Regions from separate parts of the Homo sapiens genome. Here regions 1, 3, 4, 5 and 6 are each linked to region 2. The links come from fine-mapping of genetic effects on gene expression. A gene starts in region 2. Each other region holds a variant in brackets. All regions are shown on one strand. Distances are between the middles of the regions. Region 1 overlaps ETFBKMT (electron transfer flavoprotein subunit beta lysine methyltransferase). Region 2 holds the start of RESF1 (retroelement silencing factor 1). Region 3 overlaps RESF1 (retroelement silencing factor 1). Region 4 holds the start of AMN1 (antagonist of mitotic exit network 1 homolog). Region 5 has its middle 28 kb from the start of H3-5. Region 6 overlaps LOC105369724 (a long non-coding RNA gene).

What was found.
Region 1: its variant is fine-mapped to the expression of RESF1 in whole blood (INTERVAL, PIP 0.99).
Region 3: its variant is fine-mapped to the expression of RESF1 in whole blood (TOPMed, PIP above 0.99).
Region 4: its variant is fine-mapped to the expression of RESF1 in skeletal muscle (FUSION, PIP 0.95).
Region 5: its variant is fine-mapped to the expression of RESF1 in whole blood (TOPMed, PIP 0.95).
Region 6: its variant is fine-mapped to the expression of RESF1 in whole blood (INTERVAL, PIP above 0.99).

Annotation. Positions count from the first base shown.
Region 1 is chr12:31,666,330-31,671,394 of GRCh38, reverse strand. It overlaps ETFBKMT (electron transfer flavoprotein subunit beta lysine methyltransferase), which reads right to left. Exons shown (of 4, transcript NM_001135863.2): 4 at 1-3,748. The coding sequence ends at 3,405. It overlaps AMN1 (antagonist of mitotic exit network 1 homolog), which reads left to right. Exons shown (of 7, transcript NM_001113402.2): 7 at 1-253. Among named protein-coding and RNA genes, the nearest start is that of ETFBKMT, 9.2 kb to the right of the region's middle. The variant G/T (reference allele first, on the strand shown) is at 2,865.
Region 2 is chr12:31,956,522-31,961,594 of GRCh38, reverse strand. It overlaps RESF1 (retroelement silencing factor 1), which reads right to left and starts at 2,180. Exons shown (of 6, transcript NM_018169.4): 1 at 2,104-2,180; 2 at 724-818. LOC105369725 (a long non-coding RNA gene) reads left to right here and starts at 2,291. Exons shown (of 2, transcript XR_931503.2): 1 at 2,291-2,467; 2 at 2,791-3,102. RefSeq lists a silencer at 1,870-2,209 and enhancers at 3,262-4,055, 4,059-4,558.
Region 3 is chr12:31,991,240-31,996,312 of GRCh38, reverse strand. RESF1 (retroelement silencing factor 1) reads right to left here. Exons shown (of 6, transcript NM_018169.4): 6 at 3,206-3,935. The coding sequence ends at 3,778. Among named protein-coding and RNA genes, the nearest start is that of RESF1, 34 kb to the right of the region's middle. RefSeq lists a silencer at 2,261-2,425. The variant C/T (reference allele first, on the strand shown) is at 2,948.
Region 4 is chr12:31,727,520-31,732,592 of GRCh38, reverse strand. It overlaps AMN1 (antagonist of mitotic exit network 1 homolog), which reads left to right and starts at 3,572. Exons shown (of 7, transcript NM_001113402.2): 1 at 3,572-3,622. The coding sequence starts at 3,585. AMN1-AS1 (AMN1 antisense RNA 1) reads right to left here and starts at 3,328. Exons shown (of 1, transcript NR_198987.1): 1 at 1,389-3,328. LOC105369722 (a long non-coding RNA gene) reads right to left here. Exons shown (of 3, transcript XR_931497.3): 3 at 3,703-3,936. RefSeq lists enhancers at 3,064-3,263, 2,659-3,291, 3,304-3,653 and a silencer at 3,704-3,783. The variant T/CTTTT (reference allele first, on the strand shown) is at 2,140.
Region 5 is chr12:31,761,549-31,766,621 of GRCh38, reverse strand. No RefSeq gene overlaps it. Among named protein-coding and RNA genes, the nearest start is that of H3-5, 28 kb to the left of the region's middle. The variant CA/A (reference allele first, on the strand shown) is at 2,603.
Region 6 is chr12:31,750,160-31,755,232 of GRCh38, reverse strand. It overlaps LOC105369724 (a long non-coding RNA gene), which reads left to right. Exons shown (of 4, transcript XR_931501.3): 2 at 1,897-2,085; 3 at 3,880-3,985. It also overlaps the pseudogene IFITM3P2. Among named protein-coding and RNA genes, the nearest start is that of AMN1-AS1, 23 kb to the right of the region's middle. The variant C/A (reference allele first, on the strand shown) is at 2,437.

The sequences.
Region 1 (5,065 bases), 290 kb after region 2:
ATTTTGCCTCTGATGTAGTGAAAAACGGGGTAAGTATGCTAACTTTCTTGTATATGTTGGGGGGTACTTATTCAACTCCATTTCTTGTCCTTACAAGATTTATAAATGTGGTATGTTTATAGTGTGGATATATATGTTGCCACTGCAAAGGTGGTGCATATGTATATATGTGCAAAATGGGTAAGGCCTGTTCTAACTATGAAATTTTTCTAAAGACAAATTCAATAAAATTTAATACTGAATATTTAACCAAGTCAATCACATTTTCCCCTTTTTGCAGAAACTAGTTTCGACATCTAAATTGTGAGCTTCTTTGGGTCTATGAAGGATTTATCTTCCTAAAACAGTTTGCAGTTTGATATTTCTCCTTTTTTATGTTGCTAGCTGTATTAACTATTTCTCACCACTCTGTTTAAAATATCTGTACCCCATCCAGTACCCAGTATTCCCTATTACCCTTACTTCTTTTTCTCCTTACTACCTATCACCATCTGATGCCTGTTTTCATTTGTTCATTATGTCTCCCTACTCTAGAATACAAATTTCATAAGGACAAAGTATTTATCTTTTTTTTTCATTGCTGTATCCCCATATCCCCAGTGCCTAGAACAGTGCCTGGTATATAATAAGCACTCAAATATTCATTGAATAAGTAAATATGGAAAGAAATAAAGGAGGAAAGAAAGAAATACCCAGTAATACCCAGCCTGGCCAATGTAGCAAGACTCCATGTCTACAAAAAATACAAAATAAAAAAACTAGCCAGGCATCATGGTGGTGCATGCCTACAGTCCTAGCTACTAAGGAGGCTGAAGTGGGAGGATTACCTGAGCCTAGAAAGTCGAGGCTGCAGTGAGCACGGTCGCATTGCTGAACTCCAGCCTGGATGAGAGAGCAAGACCTGTCTAAAAACAAACAAAACAAAACACCCAACAACAACAACAAAAATTTCCAGTCTCTAGTCTGATTTATATTTTCTAATATAAAGAGATTGGAAGTCATCATTCCCATCCTCACAATAAGAAAAAAGCTCAATAAACTGAAAAGTCAACAACACTTAGATCCATTAGAGAATTAAGGTTAAAGAGAGAATGCCTCACAAATTAGAAACGCAAATACAAAGAACCATAGCTTACAGGGAGCAGAAGCCTGTTGCTGGAGCCAGTACCAATAGGAACATTTATGCTGTAATTCCTGAGTTGCTGGAGGCTCCATGTGGATGGACTTAAGAATCAAAAGCTCCAGCCTGGCACAGTGGCTCACACGTGTAATCCCAGCACTTGGGGAGGCTGAGGCAGGTGGATCACCTGAGGTCAGGAGTTCGAGACCAGCCTGGCCAACATGGCGAAGCCCTGTCTTTACTAAAAATACAAAAATTAGCTGGGCATGGTGGTGCATGCCTGTAATCCCAGCTGGGTTTGGTGGTGTATACCTGTAATCCCAGCTACTCAGGAGGCTGAGGCAGGAGAATCACTTTAACCCAGGAGGTGGAGGTTGCAGTGAGCCAAGATCACGCCATTGCACTCCAGCCTGGGCAATAAGAGTGAAACTCTGCCTCAAAAAAAAAAAAAAAAGAATCAAAAGCTCTAGGAATCTGTCCATAAACGTTATCTAACCAGGTGTGGCAACCCTGCAGTCACTCTGAACCTATTCTGCTTTTGGGAGCTGCCCAATTCACAGATTGTTCTTTGCTCAATTAAACTTTGTTAAATTAAAACAAACAAACTCCAGGGGGCCCACTCCTAGGGGAGACACCACACTTTCATAGTTTTACCTCCAGGATACCTACCAGGTTCTCAGGGTGAGGATCAGAGAAAAATCCCCTCTTCTGGTATGAGGATAGGGAAAGTAACCATTTTGAAATATGCCCAAGTGTTCAGTTCTCCTTAACAAAAGCCAGTTCTCAAGGGAAACTATTTTACCAGAGCCTCGTTGACCTGGGGGAAAGGAAGCACCCAACTCCAGCTGCCTCTAGCCTTCCTGTCTCACCAAAGTGACAAAAGAAAAGCTGAAAGCACTTGTGAAGGTCACAGCAGGGGCACAGGCTGACTTAACTGACTGAGACTTAATCACAGGACTATAGAACATACCTTCTCCCATACCTTATCACATCAGTTAGGCTACTGTATAATAACAGGGAATTACAGGTGAAAAAAACTGCAAGCTTCAGACTCTATATAAGAAGGAATCTCTAGGGAAACTCAAAGATAACAGAGGAGACAATAGCCAGGACACTAGAGGAAAATTTAGCCTGTAATATCTACTCTACAGCAAACAGTAGCCCTACCCAGATTTTAAAACCTCATGCTACCTTAGTTTACTTGTTTATTTATGCAATACATCATGTCTAGCTATCAACAAAAAATTACAAGGCATGCTAAAAGACAAAAAAACAGTCTGAAAAGAAAACAAGCATCAGAACCAGACTCAGTTATGGCAGACATTTTAGAATTACCAGATCATAAATTTAAAATAACTGATTAACATGCAAAGGGCTCTAATGCGAAAAGCATACAACACGCAAGAATGATGGGTGACGTAAGCAGAGATAGAAGCTATAAGAAAAAATCAAAAGGAAGTGATAGAAGTAAAAAACATCGTCAGGCTGGCGTGGTGGCTCACACCTGTAATCCTAGCACTTTGGGAGGCCAAGGCGGGTGGATCACCTGAGGTCAGGAGTTTGAGACCGGCCTGGCCAACATGGCAAAACCCCGTCTCTACTAAAAATACAAAAATTAGCCAGGCATGGTGGTGCACACCTAAAATCCCAGCTACTCTGGAGGCTGAGACAGGACAATCGCTTGATTGGGGGAGGTGGAGGCTACAGTGAGCCGAGACATGAGTCACTGCACTCCAGCCTGGAC[G/T]ACAGAGCTGAGACTCCATCTCAAAAAAAAAAAAAAGCCCAGAGTTCAAGGCTGCAGTGCCCAATGATTAAGCCTCTGAATAGCCACTGCATTCCAGCCTGGGAGCAAAGTGAGACTGTCTCTAAAAAAAGAAAAAATATATATATAGTCTTCTTCTGTTTTGTTTTGTTTGTTTAATTCAAAGTTACATCACAGTTGTCCTCGACTACAGAAACAGATCCAGCTACAATGTTTAATTCTTCTCCATTACTTAAATTAAATGCTGCCACCATTGAGTATGGCATTGTATAATCATATTCCTTCAGCGGTTAAAATAGAAAAAAAAATGCAGATAGAGATGTGTATAATTGGCATGCATAGAAATACAGAACCAGTTACATGACAAAAGTAAACAAAACTCTAAACCTTCATATTTTAAAAACAAGATTTTCCATTTAACAAGAATTACATTCATTAAACTGGAGAGTATCTCCTATAGAGAAAACTTTTAGAGTCAGATCCAAACATTACTATATTCATACTTGGAAGCACTTTGACAACTCAAGGCTGAAAACCCCACACTGTGCTTGTTGTCAGTCCACTGTTTTCCTGCCTAGTAGACTCCAAAAGTGAATATTCTACCACTTTGTGCAGGTGATGCTGAATGCTGTGTCCACTGAACTGGGGCCGCCCAGGGTCACCAATCAGTACTCGAGTTCTATAGGTCCAGAAGCACTTCTTCAGCCACTGATGAAGACTATCTGCAAGGTCTTCATCATAAAACATATCGCCAAGAACAACAAGGTCCCACTTATCTTGTTCCAAATTCAAAATGTTTTGGATTAAAATAGGAAAAGGATTCAGTCTGTTCAATTCACAATTTAGTGTAATAGCCATTCCTGCAACTTAAAAAAAAAAAAAGCACAAAATGAATTGGTATATGCTAGGCTGTTATAATTCCATGTTGATTAAATAATTTAGAAGATCTGCTAACAATATATTTTTCTTCCTTTTTGATGAAAGTTGTTTTTTAAAGTAGAGAAGTATAAAGGTTATCCCAATATAAGCTATACCACAATTTCCAAATACATGACTGGATATCCTGAAAACAAACAATTCAAAACACCTAGAAATGCTGGGACTTTTAGGAATATTTGCTGATTTCATTAACCAAAAGATTTTGTTTTTTTACTGTGGACAGGGAAACGAGACTTGGGCTTGATTGAGCATGGCAATAAATTAGAACTGAGACCCCTTGGCTGGGCGCAGTGGCTCACGCCTATAATCCCAGTACTTTGGGAGGCCGAGGCGGGTGGATCACCTGAGGTCAGGAGTTCAAGACCAGCCTGGCCAACATGGTCAAACCCTGTCTCTAATAAAAATACAAAAATTAGCTGGGCATGGTGGTGCATGCCTGTAATCCCAGCTACTCGGGAGGCTGAGGCAGGAGAATCACTTGAACCCACGAGGTGGAGGTTGCAGTGAGCCAAGACCGTGCCACTGCACTCCAGCCTGGGCAATAGAGTGAGACTCTGTATCAAAAAAAAAAAAAGAAAAAAAAAGAACTGAGACTCCTTTATAAAATAAAGGTTTTCAGCCAGGCGCGGTGGCTCATGCCTGTAATCCTAGCACTTTGGGAGGCCAAGACGGGCAGATCACGAGGTCAGGAGATTGAGACCATCCTGAATAACACGGTGAAACCCCATCTCTACTAAAAATGCAAAAAAAAAAAAATTAGCCAGGCATGGTGGCAGGCACCTATAGTCCCAGCTACTCAGGAGGCTGAGGCAGGAGAATGGTGTGAACCCGGGAGGCGGAGCTTGCAGTGAGCTGAGATTGTGCTACTGCACTCCAGCCTGGGTGACAGAGGGAGACTCTGTCTCAAAATAAATAAATAAATAAAATAAAATAAAGGTTTTCAAGGACTATATTCTCAGTGAAAGGGTAGACCAGAAGAAAATCAGATCAAATAAAAACTTACCTGTCTCAGCCTGGGTTCTAATGGAATAAAAATAACCCTCAAAGACAGGTCAATACTCACTTGGGTTTGGGGTCAAATAAACACTATTTACATATTTCAGGAAATTCCTAGCCCATAAATTAACATAAGTGCTTACTCTGGATGTCTGGCAGACACAAATCCTCTTGGGAAAAATGCACCATCTACTCAGACCTCAGGGGATTCCTACAGATAATGTCCCAGTGCACAGAGATTCACAATG
Region 2 (5,073 bases):
GGCAGCATTACATGTCCCAGGCCACAAAATCTATTTCCTCTAACATGACAATAGCTAACATTTATTGGGCACTTGCCATGCATCAGGAGCTGTTTAACTGTGATATGCATGAAACTCATGTAACTCTACCATAACAATCCTATGACATTAGTGCTTGTCCCCATTTTATAGATGAGAGAACAGGCAGAGGTTTATTTTCCAGGGTTGGCTGAGTGCTACAGCCAAGATCTGAACCAAAGCAGTGTGGTTACAGGGACCATGGTCTTAATCATTAGGTGAGACTTCCTAACACACTTTGTGGTTACAGATGAAAGCCCTGGACATGATCACTTTGGCTGCACGGGAAGCATCCTCCCAGAGTGGTGCTCTGCGCCACATTCCCCTATGTGCCACCAACAGTAATAAAATATAATAAAAACAATCAAATAAACACAGCACAGACAGAAGCAGACCTCTGCCCAGGTAACTTCCACCACAATTCCCTTACCAAAGACCTCTTTCCTTATTTTGCTAAGATTAACAACTGATTTTTCAGTACTATGCCAACAACATTTCTTCTCAAGCTTTGCTGTCAATTCCATTGTGACCCACAGTTTAATTTAAAACCGATGTTGATTCACTGAGCTAGTAATTTTATTCGGTAATAGGTGAATTACTCCATAGTTGAGTGTGAATAACCGCCTGGTTAAATCAGGGCGGGTTTCTTAGAGGTGATACACTTACCGTTGAGCACAACTTTACTCTTTAATTATCGTGTACATTCCCATTTCCCTCCAAACACGTCAGTCCCTCTCCACACAGTGTTTACTTCTTTGGTCCTAGGGACAGCAAGAAACATTTTATAATAAAAGAGCACATGCTAATGTGTTTACTAGATATGACACTGCTGTGCAAAACTGTTTTCTTTTATGGCTGCACTGAAAGCATGCTAAGTTTACTGAATTCTTATTAAGTGTCCTAAGTAACAGAAATAGAAACTAGGTCTGGCCTGAAAATACCATTCACTTAAGTTAGAATTTATGTGCGCTCCTCTAGGTCCGCTATTGTAGTATCACTGCAAAACAATAATACTTTATCTCTGCACTTGTCTTTATTGGATTAATATTAAACAGAAAAAAATCCGACTGCACAGGGGAAAAAACCTAAAACCTTAACATGCATGCACATTAACAGTGACTGAAACATGATTAAAGCTAACACATTTAGCAGAAAAATGCAATCCCCAAACAAGCTCTGCGGCCCGCCTACTGAAATGCACCCGCCCGCCACTAAATGAAAATGCGCCTCAAGCTCATACACATCCTTATGTTAAGACAGTATGCACTCGATGTACTACAAATAAATTGTTTTCACGGAAATGATTCCCCGAAAGTTTGCTGCTGAACTCAGGACCCTAAGGACGTTTGCTTAGGGAATCCGTGTCCCTCGAGAACACCTAAGATGGGTATGCGTTTGTGCATTTAAAAATGCCTCAAGGAACTATTGCTGAGGAACAGAAACCATCGCCGGCGCAGAAGCGTTCGCGGACCACTTGGAGATAGATGCCAGTACAGCAATTCTGTTCCAGGAGGCTTCGGCTTAAGAGGGCCGGGGAGGAGGAGAACCCTCGGGAAATAGCAAAAAAAAAAAAAGATTTTTCTTTTTCACTCCAGCGACAGGAAAGCCTTAAAAACATAAGCAGCTCTCATACCCACCCGCCTCACCAGCCGCGCCTCGCAGTTCGACAAAATGCGTCCTAGCCTTCGCCACTCGCGACCTCTACCGCGCAGAGCCAGGCAATGAGGGAAAACAGCCAGCGAGGCCCGCCCTCCGGTGCAAGGCTCGGCATCCGCGGAGGCCCAGGGCCGGCCCCGGTGCGGCGGGCAGAAGCAAGCGCGGCGGCCCGGCCCAGCTCCGGTGGGCGGACGGCGGGACGCGCGAGCCGGCGGGGCCCGAGGCCCGGGTTCCGGGGCCGCCCGCGACTGCGTCTTTGCCGCAGAACAAAAGCGCTCTGCGCCGCGCGCAGGCCCGGACCGCGAGTGCCTCTGGCTCCCGGCTCCCGGCCCCCGCCCCGCCCGGACCCCGGAAGGCGGAGGGACCTCGGGGTGCTCGTCTCACACTTACCGACAAAGGGAAGAGGACCACCCCGGCAAGCGGGGAGAAAACCGGCGGCCTCCCGGGCCCCAGAGTTTAAGTCAAGTGGGGTCCGCCTCCAGGGGCGGGTCGAGGAGCCAGGCCCAGGATCCAGGAACAGCTACGCTCCGCCTCACGCCCGAGGCGGTGGCTGCGAGGGCCGCGCCGCCGCGGTCCTAGTGCCACCAGAGAAGCCGCGGACCCGGCCCGCAGATAACACCCGGGCTTGCAGAGCGCTTTCATCTGCCCGACGCGGAAATCTCCTGCAGCGATCTTCTACCTTCAGCGTGCATCCGCAGCACCCAGAGGGCACGTTAAAGAGAGATTGAGAACCACCAGCAAAACTGCTGATTCAGTAGGTTTGGGGTGGGGCTGAAAAATGTGCATTTCTAACAAGTTCCTGAGACCGACTGTTGCTGCTGGCCTCAGGACCAATTTTTTCTATAAAGCGCATGGAAGTCAGAGTGCACCCAAGAGATTGTTAACCCTTAAAAAACAGAAAAAAAAAAAAGAAATCAACAAGTTAGAGGCAAATAAGTGTGAAAGAAAGTGGATAGTCTATTTGGGGATTCTGAAAGTCCCTGAGGAAAGTTGACTTTGGAGACCAGATCACGAAGCACGACCTCTTAATTGCCGACCTTTTGTTATAGATTAACTCCCTTATTTTCTTGTTCCCAGCTCAGACCAGATGGCATCTGAGATAAAATACGCATTGAATAAGATAAATGACCGCTTGACTATTACATCCTTAATGTGGAATGTTAAATAGACCCTTCCCAAAAAGAAACACTGCCTTGAACCAATCAAATTGCTATGCGTTAACCTTCTATGGAAAATGTTGACATCCTGTTAAGCTTCCCAGACCCTGCCTGTGTAAACGACCCTCAAACTTCTCCCTTTCGAAGCACTGACCCCCATCTTTTGGAGTCTGTGTCCTACCGGGTCGCCATCCTCAAACTTTGCACTCAAATAAACCAATATTTAATCATATTGCCCGAATCTCATTATTAAGGTTTACGTAAGCGTTTACTTAGTAATGAAGGTTGCAACCAGGATGGCAAATCAGAGATTGTGCCACTGGAGAGGGGCAAGGGAGCTTATGTTTATAGGAATTTATTTGTTACATAAATTGTCAGATTAGTTCATTGGTGAATTAAACGAAGAAGTCTTTAGTCATTACTAGAAGAGTGCGTTTGCGTCTGTCAGAAACAAAACAAAAAAACTACATACAGAATATTCTTTCTTTTTTGGGGGGGGGACGGAGTCACGCTCTGTCGCCCAGGCTGGAGTGCAGTGGCACGATCTCGGCTCACTGCAAGCTCCGCCTCCCAGGTTCACGCCATTCTGCTGCCTCAGCCTCCCAAGTAGCTGGGACTACAGGCGCCCGCCACCATGCCCGGCTAATTTTTTGTATTTTAGTAGAGACGGGGTTTCACCATGTTAGCCAGGATGGTCTCGATCTCCTGACCTCTTGATCCGCCCGCCTTAGCCTCCCAAAGTGCTGGGATTACAGGCATGAGCCACCGCGCCCGGCCAGAATATTCTTAAAGATTGGGGGTGGCCAGGTGTGGTGGCTCAGGCCTGTAACCCCAGCACTTTGTGTCACGCGCATCCGTGTGAAGAGACCACCAAACAAGCTTTGCGTGAGCAACAAGACTGTTTATTTCACCTGGGTGCAGGCGGGCTGAGTCCGAAAAGAGAGTCAGCAAAGGGTGGTGGGATTATCTTTAATTCTTATAGGTTTTGGGAGAGGCTCCGCGGAACAATGTTTTGCGGGCAGGGGGTGGATCTCACAAAGTACATTCTCAAGGGTGGGGAGAATTACAAAGAACCTTCTTAAGGGTGGGGGAGATTACAAAGAACCTTCTTAAGGGTGGGGAGAATTACAAAGAACCTTCTTAAGGGTGGGGGAGATTACAAAATACATTGATCTGTTAGGATGGGGCAGAAACAAATCACAATGGTGGAATGTCATCAGTTAAGGCTATTTTCGCTTCTTTTGTGGATCTTCAGTTGCTTCAGGCCATCTGGATGTATACGTGCAGGTCACAGGGGATATGATGGCTTAGCTTGGGCTCAGAGGCCTGACAGTTTGGGAGGCTGAGGTGGGTGAATCACTTGAAATCAGGAGTTTGAGACCAACGTGACCAACATGGTGAAACCCTGTTTCTACTAAAAATATAAAAATTAGCCAGGCGTGGTTGTGGGCACCTGTAATTCTCAGCTACTCGGGAGGCTGAGGCGGGAGAATTGCTTAAACCCAGGAAGCAGAGGTTGCAGTGAGCCGAGATCACGCCACTGCACTCCAGCGTGGGCCACAGAAAGAGTCTGTCTCATGAAACAAAACAAACAAAAAAAGATTGGGGATCAGGCGTGGTGGCTTATGCTTGTAATCCCAGCACTTTGGGGAGGATCACTTGAGGCCAGGAGTTTGAGAGAGCAGCCTTGCCAACATGGTGAACCCAATCTCTACAAAAAATATACAAAAAACAAAAAAAATTAGCCAGGAGTGGTGGCATGCGCCTGTAGTCCCAGCTACTTGGGAGGCTGAGATGGGGGGATCACTTGAGCTTGGGAGGCAGAGGTTGCAGTGAGCCAAGATTGAGCCACTGAACTCCGGCCTGGGTGACAGAGTAAGAGCCTGTCTCGGAAAATAATAATAATAATAATAATAATATTGAGACCAGCTTTCTTGGGTTGTGTGTTGTTGCAAAAACGGTTGTGTTAGATATGAATTCTAAATTTCTCTTCAAAGAATCAATATGTCAGTATGGTCAATCTTTGCCTTTTACTTTTAAACTTAACTTCCTCGTAAAGCAACCTTTTTCCATCACCTGCTCCACCCTGACTCATTTCAATCACCTGCTCCACCCTGACTCATTCCGATTTCCTGCCCCGCCTTAACCATTTTTCCTGCCAAACCGCTCACCCCATCACTCTCTTTAAATTAGCCAATCAGAA
Region 3 (5,073 bases), 35 kb before region 2:
CTGGAGTGCAGTGGCACAACGTCAGCTCACTGCAACCTCCACCTCCCAGGCTCAAGTGATTCTCCTGCCTCAGCCTCCCAAGTAGCTGGGATTACAGGCATGCGCCAACACACCCAGCTAATTTTTGTATTTTTAGGAGAGCAGAGGTTTCACCATATTGGCCAGGCTGGTCTCGAACTCCTGACCTCAGGTGATCCACCCGCCTTGGCCTACCAAAGTGCTGGGTTTACAGGTGTGAGCCACTGTGCCCGGCATCATTTTTTTTTATACTGCATTTTTACAGTAGCTTTTCTATGCTTGAAGACCCAAATACTTAACTATTGTTATAATTCCCTACAGCATTCAGTACAGTAACATGATGTCCACATTTGTAGCCTATAAGCAATAAGATACACCATAGTGATTAGGTATGCAGTAGGACATCTAGGTTGACTACACCTTATTAGAGATACTTGGGACTGAAAATATTTCAGATATTTTTGGATCTTGGAATATTTGCATTATACTCACCACCTAAGCATCCTTAATCCAAGGATGCAAAATCCAAAATGCTCAAATGAGTATTTCCTTTGAGTATCACATTGGCATTCAAAGTTTCAGATTTTGGAACATTTTGGATTTTATTCTTTTTTTGAGACAGAGTTTTGCTTGTGTTGCCCAGGCTGGAGTGCAATGGCGTGATCTCGACTCGCTGCAACCTCCGCCTCCGGGGTTCAACCAATTCTCTTGCGTCAACCTCCTAAGTAGCTGGGATTACAGGGATCTGCCACCACACCATGCTAATTGTGTATTTTTAGTAGAGATGGGGTTTCACCATGTTGGTCAGGCTGGTCTTGGAACTCCTGACCTCAGGTGGTCTGCCCGCCTTGGCCTCCCAAAGTGCTGGGGTTTACGGGCATGAGCCACTGTGCCCAGCTCTGGATTTTAGATTTAGGATATTCAACCTGTACCATCTAGGTTTACACAAACCTAGTACATTCTAGGATAGTCACACAAGACCAAAATTGGCCAGGTGCAGTGGCTCATACCTGTAATCCCAGCACTTTGGGAGGCCAAGGCAGGCAGATCACCTGAGGTGAATCAATCTTTTATTTTGGCATGACAATATTTATAGATTTTTACTATTTAAAAAATGAAGTAGGCTGGGCGTGGTGGCTCATGTCTGTAATCCCAGCACTTTGGGAGGCTGAGGCGGGCAGATCACTTGAGGTCAGGAGTTCAAGACCAGCCTGGCCAACATGGTGAAACTCTGTCTCTACTAAAAATACTTTAGCAAGGCATGGTGGTGTGTGCCTGTAATCCCAGCTACTCGGGAGGCTGAAGCAAAATTGCTGGAGCCCAGGAGGCGGAAGTTGCAGTGAGTGGAGATCGTGCTACTGCACTCCAGCCTGGGCAAAAGAATGAGACTCCATTTAAAAAAAAAAAAAAAAATCACCTAGAGATGTATTTCTCAGAACATATCCCTGTCATTAAATGACAGAGGACCGTAGTTGTTTCCTAAAGGTTGGTTGTAATATGAAAGCTAAAAGCACAAAAAATTGCAATGTTTCATTAAAATCCATTGGTCTACCTTGTACATAGTTTTCAAATGAAAATTTTATATATATATATACAACATTAAGATTTTATAAAAATAACCAACATGCTCTGGGCGTGGTAGCTCACATCTGTAATCCCAGGACTTTGGGAGGCCAAGGCCAAAGGATTACTTGAGCCCAGGAGTTCAAGACCAGTCTGGACAACAGGGTAGAATCTCATGTCTCCAAAAATGTATGTATTTTTAAATTATGTGCTCAGGGTTGGGCAAGATGGCTCACGCCTGTAATCCCAGCACTTTGGGAGGCTGAGGCAGGCAGATCACGAGGTCAGGAGTTCAAGACCATCCTGACGACCAACATGGTGAAACCCCGTCTCTACTAAAAATACAAAAATTAGCTGGGCGTGGTGGCGGGCACCTGTGATTCCAGCTATTCGGCAGGAGAATCCTTGAACCCGGGAGGCGGAGGTTGCAATGAGCCAAGATGGCGTCACTGCACTCCAGCCTTGGCGACAGAGCAAGCCTCCGTCTCAAAAAAAAACAAACAGGCTGGACCCAGTAGCTCATGCTTGTAATCCCAGCACTTTGGGAAGCTGGGGTGGGCGGATCACCTGAGGTCAGGAGTTCGAGACCAGCCTGACCAACACGGTGAAACCCCATCTATACTAAAAATACAAAAATTAGCTGGGCGTGGTGGCGGGCGCCTGTAATCCCAGCTACTCTGGAGGCTGAGGCAGGAGAATCGCTTGAACCCGGGAGGCGGAGGTTGCAGTGAGCCCAGATCGCGCAATTGCACTCCAGCCTGGGTAACAGGGCGGGAGTACGTCTCAAAGAACAAACAAAAAAACCACAAAAATTCTCCAAACATTAAGAAACAAAAACAAACAAACAAAAAAACAAAATTATGTGCTCACTTTGGCAGCACACTAGAATACAAAGATTAGCAAATTAAATAATTTTTTTTTAAATTAGCCAGGTGTATTAGCACACTGTAGTCCCAGCTACTCATGAGGCAGAGACGGGAAGATTATTTAAACCCAGGAGCAGTGATTGCAGTGAACATTCATCCTACACCGCAGTACTCCAGCCTTGACGACAGAGTGAGACCCTGTCTCAAAACAAAAACTCCAACCCTTTTCTCGTAGTCATAAAGTAAAACTAGAAATAAAGTTATATCTTGCCTTCCAGTTTCTTGAAATTTCCTGAACCTAGTAAATTTTTTTGTGTTCTCATGTGAACGCAATCTAAAAATACCTACTGGCACAACTGCTGTGACATTTCAGCTTTTTTTTTTTTTTTTTTTTGAGAAGGAGTCTGGCTCTGTCGCCCAGGCTGGAGTGCAGTGGCGCGATCTCGGCGCACTGCAAGCTCTGCCTCCCGGGTTCACGCCATTCTCCTGCCTCAGCCTCC[C/T]GAGTAGCTGGGACTACAGGTGCCTCCCACCTTGTCCTGGTAATTTTTTGTATTTTTTTTTAAGTAGAGACGGCGTTTCACCGTGTTAGCCAGGATGGTCTCCATCTCCTGACCTTGTGATCCGCCCGCCTCAGCCTCCCAAGGTGCTGTGATTACAGGCATAAGCCACCTCGCATTTCAGCTTTTGAAAGCACTTTCCAAAATGCGTCCTTTTAAAGGTAGGAAACCAAAAAGAAACTGAGCTGTGAAGGTTTCAAATTAGTTTTTTAAAAAATAAATGTTTATTTCAAGTATGAAAAGTAATGTTTAAACGTTGTCCCAAAATTGTGTTCAGTTTCACAAGTATAAAATAAGACTTCTGAAAAAAAGTTTACAATTAGTTATAAAACACTTAAGAATATATTTTGACATTCACATCACAGTGGGCATTTTTGAAAAATAAATTTTGCTAATATAGCTTAGAAACCAAAACATATTTACAGTCCCATTTAAATAAACAAGTCCTTAACTGAGGAACGGTCCTCCCTCAAGATGGGTAGAATTTCAAATTGATTTGTATAAGCATTCCTTTTAAAATAATGGTAAATCTGGTTCAATAAAGTAGAAATTCAAATACCTTGTTTCCCCGGTGAATACCATCCATTTCTTACACATGGCTACCCAAAGTTCTCAAGCCATTTTAATTAAGCACTTTCAATGAAATACAATGAAAGTGGGAACCAAACTCTGAGAAATCTTTATCATGGCATTTCTCATTAGTTTCAGCGAAATATTTTGAACAGAAAAGGAAAGAAATTTCCCAGTGGCAATTACAAAACCACATCTTGTAATTATTTTACAGGACTGCTACCAAGGCTTCTGCTTCTCTTCTCCAGGTACATCTGTTTGTAGGTTTGAAACATTTCTTTTGAATCTTTTACTGGGTTTTGTAGCATCTCAAATCCATCTGCACTGAAGCTTCTCTTCGAGAGTCTTGAATTAACATTATCTAAGGGAAATAAAAACTTTACTTACTTTATTTCTCAATGTTAGCTGTGATCAATATATAATCAAAATTCAGAGGGAAAATATATATTGGAGGGATAAAAAATTAAGGCAAGGAGTTAAGCAAAAGTTTCAGAACCATAGCTCTTCACTTATAGAATTGTAAGTTATATACACGTGACATCTTGCCTTTCTTTTGGGGGCTGTTTTCTACTCCTGCCTCCTTGCCCCATCCTCATTGCCCTGGGCTGTTCTGTTCTACCTTACTCTTGGCTCAATAAAATGTATCATTGCATATCATTAGTATGAATGTGATCTTTTAAACAGCTATGTAAATTAGCAATACAAAGAGTACAAATATGAGTCAGTCCCAAACAATACATGAAAAGGATAGGTTTCATATTTTGGTCTTGCCATGTATTGGATATTCTAAAACATGTCTATAGTTTCCTGTTTCTTGAGACCATTTCAGTGTTACATTAGCTTCAGTGTCCTTTTTTCATAATGACCCATCACCTATTGAAAATATGTTGAGGCTGGGTATGGTGGTTCACGCCTGTAATCCCAGCACTCTGGGAGGCCAAGGCAAGCAGATCACATGAAGCCAGTTCAAGACCAGCCTGGCCAACATGGCGAAACCCTGTTTTGACTAAAAATACAAAAATTAGCTGGGCAGAGGTTGCAGTGAGCCGATATCACACGACTGCACTCCAGCCTGGGTGACAGAGCGAGACTGTCTCAAAAAACAAACAAACAAACAAACAAACAGAATTGCTGTATGGGTATGCGAAATACACTTTCTACTGAATGTGTATCACTTTCATACCATCACAGTCAAGAAATCCTAAGTCAAACCACTGCCAAGTCAGGGACTATCTGTACATTTCATTCCTGCTGCAGCTATTTTCTTCTGAATAATGGGGTCTTGTTTTGTCTTTTTCTACCTGAATGGGTGGAGTATTCTGTCCTGTTAGTTCTTTAGATCTGCTGCAGTCTTCCACTTTTTCGTTTGCTTTCTTTCAGAATTAGTAACACTGAAGCCCCAGATGGGTCTCTAAGTTGCTTTCCAAGAAATTCTTGTCATTTCCTCTTCATCTCTTTACCCTAACTTAGGACTTCAAGTTTGCTGCAACCTTTGCTAC
Region 4 (5,073 bases), 230 kb after region 2:
ACGCCTGTAATCCCAGCACTTTGGGAGGTCGAGGTAGGTGGATCACAAGGTCAGGAGTTCGACACCAGCCTAGCCAATATGGTGAAACCTCGTCTCTACTAAAAATACAAAAAAAAAAAAATTAGCCTGGCATGGTGGCACATGCCTGTAATCCCAGCTACTTGGGAGGCTGAGGCGGGAGAATTGCTTGAATCCGAGAGGCAGAGGTTGCAGTGAGCCGAGATTGCGCCACTGCACTCCAGCCTGGAGTAAAGTAAAACAAACCCACAGCAACAATCTATGATAACGTTTACTTTGTATGGTAGCTATGGTAGGAAGTGGAGGAGATTCTGAGCTAGAGGAAACTATATTAAAGTGGGCACAGCAAACAGAGAGGAGAAAAGGAAAATATCTTGCCCTTAGCCTAACCCTGCCTACAAATCACTTACCATACACTAGAAAAGACTTTCATTCCCAATAACTTTGCATTCAAAGATAAACCATGAATAGCGGGAACCTCCTAAAAGCCTTGACTAACGGGAAATCCTAAAAGCTTTGCCTCCAGAGATAAGCCACAAAAACAAGAACATCCTGTTTTCCTTACCACAAAACAGGAACATCTTGTTCTTATCCAATTGGAATGAACTGCCATATCTGAGCTATAAATATCTGCCATTTCATCTGAGCTATAAATTCCTCTATTCTATTTAGCGAGCCACTCTCTGAAAGTCTGATTTTCTTGAACTGCAAGTAAAAATGTCTCTCTGTGCTCATATTTGTCTTTGATTTTTATTTTGACATAGGGTTCCTGAACTGATTTTTGGGGGGGGGAATCCTGAAGTTGGACGCACCCAGGGCTGGCTTCATGGGTGGGCAAAATGTGCAGTCACACGGGCCCCACTCTGGGTTTAGTGCTCTGCTATCACCATCTTAAAATTCGTAATTTCTTTGTTTTTTTTGAGGTAGAGTCTCACTCTTGTTGCCCAGGCTGGAGTACAGTGGTGTGATCTCGGCTCAGTGCAACCTCCGCCTCCTGGGTTCAAGCAATTCTCCTGCCTCAGCCTCCTGAGTAGCTGGGATTACAGGCACCTGCCACCACGCCCAGCTAATTTTTTTGTACTTTTAGTAGAGTTTCTCCATATTGCCCAGGCTGGTCTCGAACTCCTAACCTCAGCTGATCCGCCCACCTTGGCCTCCCAAAGTGCTGGGATTACAGGCGTGAGGCATGTGCATTTTAGCTTTCTAGATCAGGTGAGGGCACATGGACAAATGGCTCAAGGGTCAAATCCAGTCCACTGTCTGTTTTTGTATAGCTTGCAACTTAAGGATGGCTTTTACATTTTTCAGTGGCTGAAAAAGATCAAAAGATGAGTATTTCATGACAGTTGAAAATTACATAAAATTCAAACTTCAGTGTTTAGGATAAGGTTTTATTGGAACAGAGACCCACCCATTCATACTGTCTATGGCTAATTTTAAGATACAAGTTGAATAGCTGTGACCAAGCCAGCATGACCCACAAAACCTAAAATATTTCTTGTTTGGCTCTGGGAAGCTAAAAGACAACAAAGAAAGAATTCTCCAAAGATACTGAGTTTCTTTGGGAGTGAACAAAAAGAATTATAATCCAAGATGTACAGCTATGGCAAGCCACGGGTCTGGAGAAGGGAAGAATAGGGGGAAGATTTTACTGGTAAAGGAGGGAAGTTCACATAAACTCTTGGAAACTAAGTTGATTGGTTCCCAAGGCTCAAATCAAGAATTGGAGTCCGTTCATTGGTGGAGGTCCTGCTGCTGGGCCAAACGTCCTTTCGACAGTATCTTATCTGAACTGCTGCAGTTTTAAAGAATATTTAGCAATAAATCTTGTCATAGAAATGTGCGCATATTTGCAAAACAAGCAAGTTGTGCAAAACATTAAATGCATGAAAGATGTGAAGAAATTGTGGGTTTTTTGGTTTATTTTTTAAAGTCCTTGAGGCAGTTCGTTCTTTCTTTTTTTTTTTTTTTGAGACGGAGTCTTGCTCTGTCGCCCAGGCTGGAGTGCAGTGGCACGATCTCGGCTCACTATAACCTCCTCCGAGTTCAAGCGATTCTCCTGCCTCAGCCTCCTCAGTAGCTGGGATTACAGGCGCCCGCCACCACACCCAGTTTTTTTTT[T/CTTTT]TTTTTTTTGTATTTTTAGTAGAGACGGGAATTTCACCACGTTGGCCAGGCTGGTCTCAAACTCCTGACCTCGTGATCCGCCCGCCTCGGCCTCCCAAAGTACTAGGATTACAGGTGTGAGCCACCGCGTCTGGCCTTGAGACAGTTCTTATCTCAGACATACAAGCATGAGTTTCCTTCCTTTCTGGTCTCTAGGCTCCAATTTGTCTGGGTCTGACAATAGTTACTTCTCCTGGAATCTGCAACTTTCAGAGCACTTTATGGAAAAAGTCGGCCAACCCCTGCCCTACACTCACTCTTGATCACTCTCCAGTGTAGCCATCCCAAACTATTTGCAGACCACCCTTTTCTCTCTGATCTGTATCCCACCCCCATGGGTGCTTCCATAGAACTAACCCCATCTAAGCATTTAACAGTTATTCTAATTGCCCTTTTACTTGTCTGACCCAAGTGTTCGCCACTCAATCCTCAGCACCCAGCACGATCCCTAGCCCTCGTTCAGCGCTTAATAAATCCATGTTGATTCAATGTGTAGCATCCTGAACAGGCAACAGCAGTGGGTTCCAACTTTCAAGGAGCTTAAAAAAGGAACTCAGCATACAAACAACAGACTAATCTACAAGGAAGAATGAGGGGGGTGGAGGGAGCACTAAAAAGCAGCAAGTACTCTGCAGCAGAACCAAAGATAAAATTCCACCTAAAGGTGCCCTTTCTTCAGGATCCTTCCTAATTTGAATACAGGTTCCCTTCTCCTCCATGACGAAATTCTTAGTGAGGTTACTTGTTGGTACGCAGTGTCCTCATCTGTAAAATAAGGCTAAATAATTACGATTTCACCGGATTATAATGAATATGGTTAAGTATTGAACTAAGGCCTAGAAAGCACGTAGCTCAGTGCACGCTTCCTAGAAAGTGCTCAGTAAACTCGGATCCTCTAACACGCTCCGTTTGATGTTAATGGAGTCCGTATCCGAGCGGGTCTCCAGTGTGCATCGCCAAGGGTATGGCCCAGCATCCAACGCATCCTTTTAGTAAGAGTAGCGACTTCTCAGCGCTCCCTTCGCCCCAGGAGAGTTCTCGGCTCGCGGCGTCGCGGCGGGGCTGCGCGCTGGGCTGAACTCCCAAGAAACCTCCTGCAGCTGAACCGGAGCAGACGCCCGCCAGGTGAAAGAACTACAACTCCCGTCACGTTGCATCCGAGTTTAGGGCCTCTTTATAGTTTATCACACCCAGCCTCTTCCGCGCAGCCCTCAGTGGCTCCGCCCCAAAGGGGGCTCTCTTCTTTCCTTGTGGAGTCCGAAGCGTGGCCACGCCCCGGTCACCGGAAAAATCCGTGTGACGTCACAAAAACCTACGCGTCGCGCGGTGGGCGGGAGTTGGCGGACGGTCCCTGGCTGGGTTCTGGAGGCCCTGGGACCGCGGAAGAGGCTTCAGACGCTGCAGCGATGCCTCGCCCACGGCGGGTCAGTCAGCTCCTGGATCTGTGAGTCTACCCTGTCCCGCCTCCCTTCGCGCCGCCCCAGCACCTCCTCCAAACGGCCAGGCCCTGCGCTGCTCTTCCTCCCCGCCCCTTTCCCACCCCCCCCGCCGACCTCTGAAGAGGCCCCGCGTGTGTTTCTGTCCCTGGGTTCCTGATCTGTCGTTTCCTGGCTGAGGACAGTTGTGCAAAGTGGGTCTCTTGGCGGGCTTGCCCCTCCAACACTCCGCTGCGCGATGAGCGTCCATTCCTCCGTCAGCCTTGACAGCTCGGCGCCCCGGCTGTTACTGGCAGTGGCCTCTCTCTTAGCAGCTAAAAGCCTTGGTAGAAAAAAACACAACGCTAGATGAGGTTCTCAAAAGCTTCTAGCAGAATTCCACCCCTGTAACTGGAATAAACATTGACAGACCCTGGGATAAAGGTAACAAAGTGGTTAAGACCACGGATCCCTGGCTGAGATTGCTGGGTTCAGCCCCCGGCTCTGCCATTCACCAGCCACGTGACCATGGACCGGTAACGTAACCTCTCCCTGTGCCTAGGTTCTTTATCTATAAAATTTTTGTGATAATAGCACCCATCACATGGAGTTGTCCTGAGGGATAAATTTAAAACATGTAAAACCCTTATAAGGATGCCCAGCAAATAATAAACACCACTAAGTGTTATTGTTATTATTATTTCCTACCAGAAATTGTACGGAAATGGAAGTTACAAGGGCAATTGCGTCTCTCCAGGAGCTTTCAGTCCGTTAATATTGCCATGTAAAAAATAGACATCTTAAGGATAAGGAGAACAATCTCCTTAATCTACTGAAGGCTTTCTGAAACAATGGCATCTGATATTTTACATTAAACTTGGGAGGCCGAGGTGGGAGAACTGCTTGAGCTCAGGAGTTCGAGACCAGCCTGGGCAACGTGGCGAAACCCCGCCTCTACTAAAGATACAAAAATTATCTGGGCACGGTGGTTCACGCCTGTAATCCCAGCACTTTGGGAGGCCGAGGCACTTGAGATCAGGAGAGTTGGAGACCAGCCTAGCCAGCACGGCAAAACCGCGGCATGTACTAAAAATACAAAAATTAGCCAGGAGTAGTAGTGGCGCCGGTAGTCCCAGCTACTCTGGAGGCTGAGGCAGGAGAATCGCCTCAACCCAGGAGGCAGAGGTTGCAGTGAGCTGAGATCGCGCCACTGCACGCCTAGGCTGCTAGGCGACAGAGCGAGACTGTCTCAAAAAAATAAAATAAATAACTATAATATATGTAGAATAATATCACAAGCGGGAGAGTAACAAACTTTTGAAATTTCTAATAAGGAAAAGAATAGGAGAAAGCTTTGTCAAGGGGGTTATTTTTGAACATTGGTAGTATCTGACGGTTGCAAATGGGAGGAAATGTATCGTAGAGAGTGAAATAAAAAGAGTAAAGGTTTGACAGGCAGGAAAGGTAGAAATATGAGAGA
Region 5 (5,073 bases), 190 kb after region 2:
ACCATCTTTTATTTCCTTTAGTAGCGAGTTTAAAGTTTTCTTCGTTTAGATTTTGCACATTTATTGTTAGATTATTCCCAGAAATTATTTTTCTGTTGCTATTGTAAATAGATGTTTTTGAACTGCTTATTGTTTGTATATATGAAAATGATTGATTTTGACTGTTAATGTCATGCTAGTCCACCTGAATTCTCTTATGATCTATAAAATTTTGTGTTTTTCTCTCAGGTTTTTCCATGTATATAATCCTATCATCTAGAAATAATTTATAAAATTACCACATCCTTTCCCTGTAAAACCATTTTTTCCCTTTTCTAAAAGTTTAATTCTGTTATAATAAACTTAAAACTTAACCATATTTTTGAGATATAATTCAAGCACAAATAAATTTCACCATTTTAAAGTGTGTAGGTCAGTGATTTTTAGTGTAGTCACAAGGTTGTACAACCATCACCACTAGTTTCAAAACATTTTTATCATCCCAAAGTGAAACTCCGTAGCCATTATTAGTCACTCCTCATCCTTCCTTCCCCCTAAGCTCTGGCAGCCACTAGTCTATAGTTTGTCTCTGTGGATTTACCTATTTTGGACATTTCCTATAAAAAGGGAAGCTTTTTGTATATAGCTTCTTTCAGTGAGTACAATGTTTTTGAGGTTCATCTATGTTTTAGCATCTTTCATACTTCATTCCTTTTTATGACTAAATAATACTCGATTTTATGGATATACCACATTTTGTTTATCCATTCATCAGTTGATTAACATTTCAGTTGTTTCCTTTTTTTGCTATCTTATATGAACATATGTTTTCAATTCCCTAAGGTACGTACCAAGGAGTGAAATTGCTCATCATATTAGTAATTCTAGGTTTAAGTTTTTTTTTTGTTTGTTTTTGAGACGGAGTCTCCCTCTGTTGCCCAGGCTGGAATGCAGTGGCGCGATCTCGGCTCACTGCAAGCTCCACCTCCTGGTTTCTCGCCATTCTCCCGCCTCAGCCTTCCAAGTAGCTGGGACTACAGGTGCCTGCCACCACGCCCAGCTAATTTGGTTTCTGTATTTTTAGTAGAGATGGGGTTTCACCGTGTGGCCTCATGATCCACCTGCCTCAGCCTCCCGAAGTGCTGGGATTACAGGCGTGAGCCACCACACCCGGCCTCTAGGTTTACCTTTTAAAGGAACTCCCAAACTGTTTTTTTACTACCATTTCATATTTCTACCAGCAATTTCCATGGGTTCCTATTTCTCCACAACCTCATCAACACCTGTAATTGTTTTAAAAAATTATTATACGGCTGGGCCCAGTGGCTCACACTTGTAATCTCAGCACTTTGGGAGGCTAAGGCGGGTAGATCGCTTGAGGTTGGGAGTTTGAGACCAGATCGGCCAACATGGTGAAATCCTGTCTCTACTAAAAATTTAAAAAATAGCTGGGCATCGTGGCACATGCCTGTAGTTCCAGCTATTCAGGAGGCTGAGGCATGAGAATTGCTTGAACCCGGGAGGCGGAGGTTGCAGTGAGCTGAGATGGGATCACACCACTGCACTCCAGCCTGGGCTACAGAGTGAGACTCCATCTCAAAAAAAAAAAATTAAAAGTTAAAAAAATTAGAGTAGCCATCATAGTGGGTATGACTTAGTATCTCCTAGTTTTGATTTGTAATTCCCTAATGATTAGCAGCATTGAGCATCTTTTCATATGCTTATTGGTCATTTGTTGTCTTCTTTGAAGAAATGCCTATTCAAATCCTTTGTCTTGGCCTGTGGATGGCTCATGCCTGTAATCCTTGCACTTTAGGAGGCCGAGGCAGGCAGATCACTTGAGGTCAGGAGTTCAAGACCAGCCTGGCCAATGTGGGGAAACCCCGTCTCTACTAAAAATAAAAAATAAAAAATAAATTAGCTGGGCGTGGTGGCGGGCGCCTGTAATTCCAGCTACTCTGGAGGCTGAGGCAGGAGAATCACTTGAACCTAGGAGACGGAGGTTGCAGTGAGTGGAGATTGCGCCACTGTACTCCAGCTTGGGGGACAGAGCAAGACTTCATCTCAAAAAAAAAAAAAAAATCCTTTGTCAATTTTTTAGTTGGGTTGTCTTTTATTGCTGAATTGTTAGAGTTTTTTATATATTCTAGATACAAGTTCTTTTTTTTTGAGACGGAGTCTTACTCTGTCCCCCAGGCTGGAGTGCAGTGGCACGATCTTGGCTCACTGCAAGCTCCGCCTCCCGGGTTCACGCCATTCTCCTGCCTCAGCCTCCCGAGTAGCTGGGACTACAGGCATGCGCCACCACGCCCGGCTAATTTTTTGTATTCATAATAGAGACGGGGTTTCACGGTGTTAGCCAGGCTTGTCTCTATCTCCTGACCTTGTGATCCACCTGCCTCGGCCTCCCAAAGTGCTGGGATTACAGGCGTGAGCCACCATGCCCGGCCAATTCAAGTTCTTTACTAGAATGACTTGCAAATATTTTATCCTTTTCTATAGGTTGTCTTTTCAGTTTCTGGATAATGTCCTTTGTAGCACTAAAGTGTTTAATTTTGGAGTAGATCAATTTTTCTATTTTTTTCTTTTATAGTTTGTGTTTTTGGTGCCATAACTAAAAAAA[CA/A]TTACCTAATCCAAGGTCACAGGGATTTACATCTATGTTTTCTTCTAAGAGTTTATAATTTTAGCTCTTATGTTTAGGTCCTGATCCATTTTGAGTTAATTTTTGTATATAGTGTATGGTACTCAGGTGCCAAATTCATTATTTTGTATGTAGATATCTAGTTGTTCAGAACCATTTGTTGAAAGATTATTCTTTCCTCCATTGAACTGTCTTGGCAGCCTTGTTGAAAATCAATTGATGCAAGAGTCTGGGTTTATTTCTGGACTCTCAATTCATTGTCCTCAACTACATGTCTATTCTTATGCCCATACTACAGTCTTGATATTATAGCTTTAAGCAAAGTTTTGAAATGGGGAGGTGTGAGTCTTTCAATTTTTAACTTTTTCAAGATTGTTTTGGTTATTCAGGGCCCCTTGCAGTTCTATATGTATTTGAGGATCAGCTTTTACATTTCTGAAAAAATTAAAAATGCTGTTGGAATTTTGACAGGGATTGTGTTGAGTCTGCAGATTAATTTAAGAAGTACTGATATCTTAACAATATTAGATATTCCAATCCATGAAAACAGATGTTGTTTCAACTAGTCTTCTTTCTTTTTCTCTTTTTCTTGCTTCTCTTTTTGGTTTTCAGTAGGATCTTGCTCTGTCACCCAGGCTGGAGTACAGTGGCGCGATCATAGCTAACTACAAACTCAAACTCCTGATCCTCCTGCCTCAGCCTCCTGAGTCATCTCTTTCAATGATCTCTTTTTCAGTATGAGTCATCCATTTCTTTTGTTTGTTTGTTTCTTTTTTTTTTTTTTTTTGAGACGGAGTCTCACACTGTTGCCTGGGCTGGAGGGCAATGGCACGATCTCAGCTCACTGCAACCTCCACCTCCCGGGTTCAAGCAATTCTCCTGCCTCAGCCTCCCGAGTAGCTGGGATTACAGGTGCCCGCCACCACACCCAGCTAATTTTTTTGTATTTTTAGTAGAGATGAGGTTTCACTATGTTGGCCAGGCTGGTCTCGAACTCCTGACCTCATGATCTGCCTGCCTCGGCCTCCCAAAGTGCTGGGATTACAGGTGTGAGCCACCTTGCCTGGCTGAGTCATCCACTTCTTTTGTTAAATTTGTTGCAAAGTATTTTATTATATTTGATGGTATTATAAATGGAATTATTTTCTTAATTTTATTTTTGGATTGTTCATTGTTACTTTATAGAAATACAACTGATTTTTGTATATTGATCTTGCATTGTTGCACCATTCTGAGCTTGTTTATTAGCCCTAATGGATTTTTTGTGAATTGTTTAGGGATTTTTATCTCATCTGCAAAAAAAGATAGTTGTCCCTCCTCTTTTCCAACCTAGATGCCTTTTATTTTATTTTCTTGCCTAATTGCCTTGGCTAGAACTTCCAGTTCAATTTTGAATGCAAGTGATGACAGCAGGCATTGTTGTCTTGTTTCCAATAACTTTTAACTTCTAATTTTCCCCCAAATATAAAGATAAACACATTAGATAGAAAAATATTACTGATAATAGTAGTCATCATTATTTAAAATCTTTTGTTAATGGGAGTACTTCTAATATTTTCCTTTGAACATAAGCTGTCTTGAGGTTAAAATAGATTCATATTAAGGAAATGTCTTCTATTCTTTTTTTTTATTTTTCAAATTTAATTAAAAAAATTTTTTATTTCCTCATTCTTGCTGTCAACTTATATTCTTATTCTTTTATGATCATTTTTGATTGAAAAGTAGATGGGCCAGGCACTGTGGTTCACATCTATAATCCCAGCATTTTGGGAGGCCGAGGCAGATGGATCACTTGAGGTCAGGAGTTCGAGACCAGCCTGGCCAACATGGTGAAACCCCATCTCCATTAAAAATACAAAAATTAGCAAGGCATGGTGATGCATGCCTATAATCCCAGCTACTTGGGACACTGAGGCAGGAGAATCACTTGAACCCAAGAGGCTGAGGTTGCAGTGAGCTGAGCTGAGATCGCACCACTGCACTCTAGCCTGGGTGAAAAAGCGAGACTCTGTCTAAATAAATAAATAAATAAATAAATAAATAAATGTTAAAAGGTTTTTTTTTTGTTTTTTTTTTTTGAGATGGAATCTCACTCTGTCGCTCAGGCTGGAGTGCAGTGGTGTGATCTCAGCTCACTGCAACCTCCACCTTCCAGGTTCACGTCATTCTCCTGCCTCAGCCTCCAGAGTAGCTGGGACTACAGGTGCCTGCCACCACGCCTGGCTAATTTTTTGTATTTTCAGTAGAGACAGGGTTTCACTGTGTTAGCCAGGATGGTCTCAATCTCCTGATCTCATGATCTGCCCACCTTGGCCTCCCAAAAGCTTTTAATCAAATTATTTTTCAAAGTCTGTTGAGTTGATTGTCCTTGGGTCTCTTTATAAAATAGATTTCCTAATAATTTATTATCCTTGTATTTCTGAAATAATCCCCATTTTTGTCCTTTCATTCT
Region 6 (5,073 bases), 210 kb after region 2:
ATAAAGGGCTGATACAGGACTTGGCTCCGGGAGCAGGGCGAGGAATGGAAGGTGGAGTACAAAGGATACAGGTCATGGGTAGATCTCCTGGCCTCAGTGATGTCTCCTGATCTATCTATGGGCTTGGAAGATTAATACTGGGATGATGATGAGCAGAATGGTCATGAGGATGCCCAAAATCAGGGCCCAGATGTTCAGGCACTTGGTGGTGGAGGCATAGGCCTGGGCCCCAGTCACGTTGCCAACCATCTTCCTGTCCCTAGACTTCACGGAGTAGGCAAATGCTATGAAGCCCAGGCAGCAGGGGTTCATGAAGAGGGTGTTGAACAGGGACCAGACGACATGGTGGGGCACGGAGGTCTTGCTGCGGATGTGGATCACGGTGGACGTTGGGGGAGCAGGGTTGTGGGGCACCCCCAGCACAGCCACCTTGTGCTCCTCCTTGAGCATCTCATAGTTGGGGGGCTGGCCGCTGTTGACAGGAGAGAAGAAGGTTTGGACAGTGTGGTTCATGGTGTCCAGCGAAGACCAGCCGTGGTTGAGTTACTGGGATGGTTCTCAGTGGACCCTCCCTTTCCCCAGTAGTTTTGTTTTCTCCATATTTGAAATTAAGATAACAATTACTTTCGTTTGCATTAGCCTAGTACAGGTTTGCCCATTTATCTTTTTTTCTCTTCATTTTCTGTCCTTCTGAATCTATTAGTTTTAGGTTTGTCTTTGTTTTTATGGTATTGAATTATTTTTTATTTGTGGTTCTATCTGACTTTTTCCCCTTTTACTAGATGAATTAAACTCATTTACAATTATTACAATTGTTTAAAATTTTTGATATGAAAGACATGTTTGGTCATGACTATATCATGTTATTTCATGTTATAATTCATGGTTTCAAAGTTAAAAATATTTTCGTATGTGAGATGTTTTCGTATGTGAGATGTTTTTGTTGTATGTCCATTTCTTCTGATAATTATGCATGTTTGTATTTTGTCAAATGTCTGATCTTCTTTCTTTTTTTTTTTTCTTTGAGATGGAGTCTCGCTCTGTCACCCAGGCTGGAGGGCAGTGTCGCGATCTTGGCTCACTGCAACCTCCTCCTCCCAGGTTCAAGCGATTCTCCTGCCTCACGCTCCTGAGTAGCTGGGATTACAGGTGTGTGCCACACCACCAGGCCCAGCTAATTTTTGTATTTGGTAGAGACGGGGTTTACCATGTTGGCCGTGATGGTCTCCATCTCCTGACCTTGTGATCTACCTGCCTCGGCCTCCCAAAGTTCTGGGATTACAGTCATGAGCCACTGTGCCCGGCCCTGATCTTCTTTCTTTAACCACTATTATCAATGCCCTATTCTGATAATTGCTAATAATTAAATTAGTAGCTTTCTTCTTCCTTCCACCTCCTTTTTCTCTCTACAACTTCTCAATTTTTGTTAATTATATTATGTTTCTTAATGTGTATATTTGTTCTGTTTAATAACAACAATCCCACATTTATTTTAGTTTTAAGCCAATTTACCAGCAGCGCTTATGCTATCTACCCAGTGCTTTCTAGTCATCTCTGGTTTGACAACATTTGTCCATTGGTGGATTCTTCATGTGAGTTAATACAAACAATACCCTTAAGATGTTGTGTTTTCAAAACTCTTTGGCTTTATATACATACATACATATGTATGTATATAAACAAATATATATATGTGTGTGTGTTTGTTTTGTCTTGTTTTGAGACAGGGTCTCACTGTGTCACCTAGGCTGGAGTGTGGTGGTGCAACCATGGCTCACCACAGCCTCAATCTCCTGCACTCAAGCGATCCTCCCACCTCAGCCTCCCAGGTAGCTGGAACTGTAGGCATGCATCATCATGCCTGGCTAAATTTTTTTTTAATTTTATTTTTATTAGGGACAAGGTGTCACCATGTTGCCCAGGCTGGTCTTGAACTCCTGGGATCAAGGAATCCTCCTGCCTCAGCCTCCCAAAGTGCTAGAATTAGAGACGTGAGGCACCACACCACCTACCTTTATATTTAAGCAACAGTTTGACTGCATACAAAATTCCTGGGTCACATCTCTTTGCTGGAGGATTTTATTGGTATGTATACATAATGTCTTCTAAGAACAAATGCTGTGGAGAAATCTGAAATCAGCCTGTTTTTCTCATTATAAGTGATTTATTCTCTGGCTTTTAAATAATTCTTTTTGAAATCTAATAATTTTATCAGGACATAGATTGCTCTTGACTACTTGGAATCTTTTTTAGTAATATGCCATTTTACATTTTTAGACTCGTTTCCTTTTTCTCTGCAATTTTTTAAAAATTATATTTTAAATTTGTTTCCCTGTTTCCTTATTTTTTTTTTCTTTGCTTTCAAGATCTGTGGGTATATGCTTCTCACCAGTTCTGGGAAATTCACAGCCATTATCTCTTTACACATTGCCTCTA[C/A]TCTTTTCTCACTATCTTTCTAATTGAAACTAAGTGTATGTTAAATCTTCTTGATGCAGAACTGCTGGGCTCCAGGCTAAACTTCACCCTCAAGCCTGGAACCTCAGTCCTAAGTGAAACAGCTGACCCCATTTTTTCCACCCAAATGATTGCTTTTTTGGCCCGCTCCACCCCCTGTCATATGCCTATAAATACCAGACCAGCTAGCAGAACAAAAGGAAGAAAAAGAGCAACCTCAGCAGCTGATGCAAGTGGTCGGGGATACAAGCTGCTGAGCATCAGGAATACATGCAGCTGAGCATCGGAAACTACAGATAGACACGGCTTCAGAGAAAGAGCAGTTTCTTCCCATACCATCCCCTTTCCAATTCCCCATCCTGCTGAGAGCCACTTTTATCACACAGTAAAATCTTCCATATACACTACCCTTCAAAAAGTTTATGTGACCTGATTCTTCCTGGACTCTGAATAAGAATTCGGGTGTCAAGAAGGGCAGGTGCAGAAGGCTGTCAGCCTGGGCTGTTAACACTTAGCCATCCACGGACTGCAGGCTGAGTGAAACAAGCCACTCCAGTTCCTGCCCACAAAGGGGGTCAAGGTCAAGACTTGACCTTGAACTATGAACTATCCTGTCTCATTCTCATCCTATCTTACATATCTTTTAACCTTTTTTTCATATTTTCCATTTCCTTGTTTCTCCCTGTGCATTCTGGATCAGTTATTTAGATATATTTTCTGGTTCACAAATTCTCACTTGAGTTATCTAATCTGCTAGTTCATCCCTCCACTGAGTTCCTACCACCACTTCCCCATCCCCGACCTCATTTTTTTTTTTTTTTTTTTTTTTTTTGTTTTGAGACGAAGTCTCGCTCTGTGGCCAGGCTGGAGTGCAGTGGTGCGATCTCGGCTCACTGCAACCTCCTGCCTCAGCCTCCCAAGCAGCTGGGATTATAAGGCGCACACTGCCACACCTGACTAATTTTTGTCTTTTTAGTAGGGATGGGGTTTCATCATGTTGGCCAGGCTTGTCTTGAATTCCAGACCGCAAATGATCCACCCTTCGGCCTCCCAAAGTGGTGGGATTACAGGCATGTGCCATCATGCCTGGCTAATTTTTGTATTTTTGTAGTGACGGGGTTTTGCCATGTTGACTGGGCTGGTCTCAAACTCCTGATCTCAAAGGATCCACACGCCTTAGCCTCACAAAGTGCTGGGATTACAGATGTGAGTCACCCCATTATATTTTTAATTCCTGGTTCTTTTTGGATTGTTTCCAAAATGTTTCTGTTCATTCCTGTTTCTAGTTGAAGGCTCACTTTTTAAATTATATACTTCTTTAAACACTTCATACACAGCTGTTTTATGTCGTATATATGTAATTATAATTCTAATACTAGAAATATTTGAGAAATCTAAATCAGTTGTTTCTGCTGACTCTCACAGTGATTGCCTTCTTGTGTGTTTGGTAATCCAGTTTGTGAGTTGATGGCTTCATCATAATCTGTGGGAGTCCTCTGTACCAAACTTGGAAAGTTCTCCTCCAGACAAGGTCGGTTTTCATTCCTGTCTGTAATGTTGAGGCTTAGAAACCAATTCCCCAAAATATGGCATGTTTACATCCTGAACTAAGAAGACTCAAGGTCTCTCTGATCTACCCACCCCTCACCAGCTCTTCCAAAGAGGCTCAAGTTCCTTTACCTGCCTAAGCTCCAGACCCACCAAGGAGAACAATAGTTTTCTTCCCTTCCCTGGGAAACCTGCCCAATTGTCCTGTAGAGGTGATGTTTATGGTTCTTTTTAATAAACATAGAAATTTATCCTCCTGGTCTTAAAACTTGAGAAAATTACATCTGTCTTATCTGAGTTGCTTTCTCAGAAAAGAAACCATCAGTCCTCCCAGACAGTATCAAGGAGCTGAAACTTACCAGATCATCACATCTGGACAAAGGGAGCCAGACGCCTCACCAATCATGACTGCCTGCTTCCTGTTGACCCCTTTCTCTTCCTTACCCCTCCCTAAAATTCCCGTTTTTCCACACATAGTTACATTTCTTCCCTGCTATACAAATCCCAAATTTTAGACAGTCAGGGAGTTGGATTTGGGACTGATCTCCCATCTCCTCTGCTGCAGCACTGGATTACAGCCTTCTTCCCTGGCAATACTCATTGTCTTAATGATTGGCTTTCTGTGAGGGGAGCAACAGGACCTAGACTGAATCTTGGGTGTTTTGGTAACATCTGTAAGACCGAAAATGTAACCACACCTAAACAGACCCTTTTTCAAGATAATGACTGACTCTCTCCAAGGATCATTTAAATTCCAAAGAGAACTACCTACAAGTTAATTTCTGTTCCCTGATCCAGTCATTCTCCCTAGCAATCATTTATTACCCCTCATCTAATCTAATCCCAAACCCTAAATCTAATAAAATACTTCTAAAATCTGCACCCCTAATGCCCTCCCACACTCAACCATTCCACTTACTTTGTAATTTAGAGAGGCCTAAATTTTGTTAAAATAGAGGCACAGCTAATAGATGTTTGTTACACTTACTTTCTTTCCCTTTGACATTTTCATCTACCAGGCATGATTACGTAACATAGTCCTTTTTTTTTTTTTTGTGATGAAGTCTTGCT